Linked DNA regions of Homo sapiens: region 1 is linked to region 2. The links come from fine-mapping of genetic effects on gene expression. A gene starts in region 2. The other region holds a variant in brackets. All regions are shown on one strand. Distances are between the middles of the regions. Region 1 has its middle 890 kb from the start of KHDRBS2. Region 2 holds the start of KHDRBS2 (KH RNA binding domain containing, signal transduction associated 2).

Region 1 (2,917 bases), 890 kb after region 2:
AGCCCTCTAAATATACACTTGCAAATTCGACAAAAAGAGTGTTTCAAAACCACTCTATCAAAATAAAGGTTAAACTCTGTACGTTGAACGCACACATCACAAAGTAGTTTCTGAGAATGATTCTCTCTAGTTATTCTATGAAGATATTTCCTTTTCTACCATAGTCCTCCAAGTGCTCTAAATATCCACTTGGAAATTATACAAAAGAGTGTTTCAAAACTGCTCTATCGAAAGGAACGTTCAACTCCGTGAGTTGGATGCAAACATCACAAAGTAGTTTCTGAGAATGCTTCTGTCTAGTTTTTATGTGAAGATATTTCCTTTTCTATCATAGGCTTCAAAGCGCTCTAAGNNNNNNNNNNNNNNNNNNNNNNNNNNNNNNNNNNNNNNNNNNNNNNNNNNNNNNNNNNNNNNNNNNNNNNNNNNNNNNNNNNNNNNNNNNNNNNNNNNNNCAAACATCACAAAGTAGTTTCTGAGAATGCTTCTGTCTAGTTTTTATGTGAAGATATTTCCTTTTCTATCATAGGCTTCAAAGCGCTCTAAGTATAAACTTGCTGATTCTACAAAAAGAGAGTTTCAAAACTACTCTATCAAAAGAAAATTTAAACTCTGTGAGTTGAACGCAGACATCACAAAGTAGTTTCTGAGAATGATTCTGTCTAGTTTTTCTATGAACATATTTCCTTTTCCACTATAGTCCCAAAGCGCTCTAAATATACACTTGCAAATTCTACAAAAAGAGTGTTTCAAAACCACTCTATCAAAATAAAGGTTAAACTCTGTGAGTTGAACGCACACATCAAAAGTAGTTTCTGGGAACGATTCTGTCTAGTTTTGCTATGAAGATATTTCCTTTTCTACCATAGGCCTCAAAGCGCTCTAAATATCCACTTTGGAAATCCAAAAAAGAGCGTTTCATAACAGCTCTATCAAAAGGAACGTTCAACTCTCTGTGTTGAATGCACACATCACAAATAAGTTTTTGAGAATACTTCTGTCTAGTTTTTATATGAAGAAATTCTGGTTTCCAATGAAATCCTCAAAGAGGTTGAGATATCGCCTAGCAGATTCTTCAAAAAGAGTGTTACAAAACTGCTCTATCAAAAGGAATGTTCAACTCTGTGAGTTGAATGCAAACATCACAAAGCAGTGTCTCAAAATGCTTCTGTGTAGTTTTTATATGAAAAATATTTAGAGCGTCTGGGGCCTTTTCTACCATAGGCCCAAAACGCTCTAAATATACACTTACAAATTCTACAAAAAGAGTGTTTCAAAACTGCTCTACCAAAAGAAATGTTAAACTCTGTGAGTTGAACGCACACATCACAAAATTGTTTCTGAGAATGCTTCTGTGTAGTTTTTCTATGAACATATTTCATTTCCCACCATAGGCCCCAAAGCGCTCTAAATATCCACTTGCAAATTCTACAAAAAGAGTGTTTCAAAACTGCTCTATCAAAAGGAAGGTTCAACTCTATGAGTTGAGTGCAGACATCACGAAGTTTCTGAGAATATTTCTGTCTACTTTTTATGTAAAGATATTCCCTTTTCCAAAGAAGGCCTCAAAGCA[C/G]TACAAATATCTACTTGCAGATATTACAAACAGAGTGTTTCAAAACTGCTCTACCAAATGAAAGGTTAAACTCTGTGAGTTGAACGCACTCATCACAAAGTAGTTTCTGAGAATGATTCTGTCTACTATTAATATGAGGATATTTCCTTTTCTACCATAGGCTTCAAAGAGCTCTAGTTATCCACTTGGAGATTCTACAAAAACTGTGTTTCAAAACTGCTCTATCAACAGGAAATTTCAACTCTCTGAGTTAAATGTACATATTACAAAAAGTTTCTGAGAAAAGTTCTTCTGTTAAGTTTTTATGTGAAGAAATTCACGTTTCCAACGAAGGACTCAAAGAGGTGCAAATATCCACTTGCATATTCTACAAAAAGACTGTTTCAAAACTGCTCTATCAAAAGAAATGTTGAACTCTGTGAGATAAATGCAAACATCACAAAGTAGTTTCTGATAATGTTTCTGTCTAGTTTTTTTATGAGCATATATTCTTTTCCACCATAGGTCTCAAAGCACTCCAAATATCCACTTGCAGACTTAATAAACAGTGTTTCAAAACTGCTCTATCAAAAGAAAGGTTAAACTCTGTGAGTTGAACGCACACATCACAAAGTAGTTTCTGAGAATTCTTCTGTCTTGTTTATATGAAGAATTTCCATTTCCTACAAAGGCCTCAAAGAGGCCCAAATATGCACTTGCAGATTCTACTAAAAGACGGTTTCAAAAACTGCTCAATCAAAAGGAATGTTAAACTCTGTGTTGAATGCAAACATCACAAATTAGTTTCTGAGAATGCTTCTGTCTAGCTTTTACATAAAGATACTTCCTTTTCGACCATCTGTCTCAAAGCCCTCTAAATGCACAATTGCAAATTCTACAAAAAGAAGATTTCAAAATTGCTCTATCAAAAGAAAGGTTAAATTGTGTGAGTTGAATGCACACATCACAGTGTAGCTTCTGAGAATGATTCTGTCTAGTTTTTCTATGAAGATATTTCCTTTTCTACCGCAGGCCTCCAAGCGCCCTAAATATTCAGTTGGAAAGTATATAAAAAGTGTGTTTCACAACTGCTCTATCTAAAGGAAGGTTCAACTCTGTGAGTTCAATGCACACATCACAAAGAAGTTTCTGAGAATTCTTCTGTCTAGTTTTATATGAATTAATCCCGTTTGCAACGTAGGCCTCAAAGAGGTCCAAATATCCTCTTGCAGATTCTACAAAAAGAGTGTTTCAAAACTGCTCTATCAAGAGGAATGTTCAACTCCGTGAGTTGAATGCAAACATCACAAAGTAGTTTCTGACAATGCTTCTGTCTAGTTATTTAGTGAACATATTTCATTTTCTACC
Region 2 (2,917 bases):
TAGAATTGAATTTTAATCTCAACTTCAGCATTAACTAGACATGAGACGATTTCTCTGTTTTGCCTCAGTTTCCATATTTATACAAACAGAGAAAGTAATACTTGGCTGGCATTTTTCAGAGTGCTTCTGTGAGGACGTATTGAAATAATCAATGTGAGGCACGTTACGTTATTTAAACATTATACAAATAAAAGTTAATCTCCCGAATTTATCTAAAAATTAAAAGGAAAATATTTAAATACAGTAAGATAAGTTGGAAAAATTTCAGCACATTTTATTTGTAGCAAAGTTGGCCCTCATTCTTCCACACCAAAAATAATGGGGGAGAGAAGAATCAGGAAATGACTACTTATGAAACGAGAACCCAAGACTTGGGGAAAGATTGTTTCCTAGCGATTGAGGCATGCAAGTTACATTTTATAGCCGCATTGGTAAAAGAAGGATGGGCTTTGCCTCCACGCTTGGTGATATCATGAGGGTTTAACTTTCCTTTAAATAGAGGTGGGATAATACAAAGTAGCTCAGCAACAGTACCTGGTGAAAGAGACTGGCACATCTAAAACTAGGAGAAAGGGGAAAATTAGAGCAAACGTGGTTACCTATTTTCTAGTCTCTTCTTTCTTCTACATGTCTTCCCAATTCTTTCACAAACTGTGACTAATGAATCATATTGTTTTTGGTTTTTAAATTCAGCCCCTCCCAACCTCCCTTCCACAGATAGGGTCTGGGGAAAGGAGGCACGGATAGGTTACCAGAACTAATTCAATATCCTAATGATTGTACACCTCAATCATGTCTCTGCACAATATTTCTTCGAGCCGCTTTATTTGTTTATCAATGAACATCCTACTGCGTCCCTGAGATGTAGGTCATCGGAAATACCAGCTGCCGATCACATGCAGTCTTCATTGTATTTCCAGACCCAGTGCGCTGCTGATTCCTGCACAACTGGAGTGCGCCTGAGCTGTGTGAGGGAAAGGAGACACCTGTGCCTTAGGGACGCAGGTGAAGTCCCATCTACCTTCCTGAGACTTTCCCTGGCGCTTTTCCACCCTCTCGGGTGGCTCACTTCTCATCTCCATCTCCCCTGTCCACTTGTACTCAGACCTCTCTCTTTAACCTGCGCTTTTCCCGCGCTCTCTCTCCTCTGCGCCTTAGCTGAAGACACAGAGAACTCCACAAAACTGGGCATGCCTAATAGCCAGGGAAGGCTTGGGCGCAAGAAGAAAGCGTTTGCATCTTCCGAGCTCCCTTCCCCTCTGCAGCTGCCTCCTGCCAGTCAGGCCACCCGACTTGCGCTACCGCCCAATGAGAGCCCGCGGCCTTCTGCCAGCGCCCCGCCTCTCCTGGCACCACCACCAATGAGTGGTTGGCGGAGGTGGGCCGCGTCCTGTTCCCGCCTCTCCAGTTAAGGCCGCTGGTGTGAGCCGGGGCTCTGCGCGAGCGAGGGACGACGGAAGGGACGGGCAGGTGTGGGCGCGGGGCCACGCAGCCCGACGGCGGGAGTCGCAGGTGCTGGGTGCATGGGCCAGTGAGGACGCACAGAGATCCCTCGCCGCGCGGAGGAGGAGCAGCGCGGGAGCCAGGCGCTGCCCCAAGACCCTGCCTGCGTCCGAGCGAGCGGAACCTCGCGCTTCGCCCGGGGACAATCCGAAGTCCGCGCTATGGAAGAGGAGAAATATTTGCCTGAGCTGATGGCAGAGAAAGATAGCCTGGATCCATCTTTTGTGCATGCGTCGCGCCTTTTGGCAGAAGGTAGGACTTGCCCCCACAGATGGGCACAAACCGCCGGCTGCCTATCTCACCCGCGGCTTGATTAGGGGAGTGAAGTTGGGGAGGGACTCCTCTCCCCGCCTTCGCAGAAACTGTCCCCCTGAAGATGCTCGCCTTAGAGCTCGGGCGGACAGACCCCGTTCTTGGGGCGGACAGCAGTGCTCCTTCTCCACGTCTTAATTTGGAGAAGACCAAAGCTACGGAGATCTAATGGCAGTGGCGATGTGACCTGTTAGGATCATTGATAGAGAAACCATAAAGTGTATGTAACGCGGTCTACAGGGACATTTTCACTTCGCAGAGGGAAGGGAAAGCAGTTTGGAAGTAAATGGTGATCAATGTAGTGTTCTAAGAGCTTCGTAGCTACAGATCGGTATTTTTATTTTTATTTTTTGCTGCATTTAGGAAGTGATTTTTGATACCCTTTAATCAAAGTCTATCCTATGGAAAGTGTTAGAATTAACCTATGCATTAAACTATGCATGTTCTTATATGTATGTTAATGTGGTAAGTAAAGGCTAAAGTGCTTATACATTTATTTGAAGTGTGATGATTGGGTACTCTGTGAGATATTGGTCCCTGGGAACACTCTATAATTGATCAACTGTTTTACCAAGTGTGCATTTTCTTTTGTGTACCTGTAATGTTAAAGGGGATTTCATTCCTAGAGGAACACATATGTCTTGTTTTTTGCATTGCTTTGAAAGGTTTTTTTTTGAAAAAAGACACATGAACTTTATTAACCGAATTACTCCATTTATGTTATAATAATGCCATCTAAATACTAAAGACACCTATGGTATCTGTAGTTACTTACCCATGCCTTTTTAAAACATCTGCAGATTTTTTTTAGATGAATGCTTCATTAATAATGAATTGCTTCATCATCAAATTGGTTACAATGCAGTTTTGTAGCTAAGTTTGTTATGGACTTACATACAGCAAAAAACTAAAACGGATAACTTCCTCTACCCAAGCTCCTCAGTATTAAAAGATTTTTTTGAGACTTAGTTGTACCAAGGAAGAATAAATTCTGCTCCTCAATATATGATTTAAATAGGCATTAGCTATATTTTTTAATTTATGAATTGTTATTTATATTAACAATGAAGTGTAAGGTATTTTTCTATGTTTAAATACTAAA

The links. PIP is the estimated chance that this variant, and not a neighbour inherited with it, causes the effect. A credible set is the group of variants that fine-mapping cannot tell apart.
Region 1: its variant is the best candidate, but not a certain one, in a credible set for the expression of KHDRBS2 in tibial nerve (GTEx, PIP 0.71).

Annotation. Positions count from the first base shown.
Region 1 is chr6:61,391,382-61,394,298 of GRCh38, reverse strand. No RefSeq gene overlaps it. Among named protein-coding and RNA genes, the nearest start is that of KHDRBS2, 890 kb to the left of the region's middle. The variant C/G (reference allele first, on the strand shown) is at 1,571.
Region 2 is chr6:62,284,696-62,287,612 of GRCh38, reverse strand. It overlaps KHDRBS2 (KH RNA binding domain containing, signal transduction associated 2), which reads left to right and starts at 1,388. Exons shown (of 9, transcript NM_152688.4): 1 at 1,388-1,755. The coding sequence starts at 1,665. RefSeq lists a silencer at 1,439-1,528.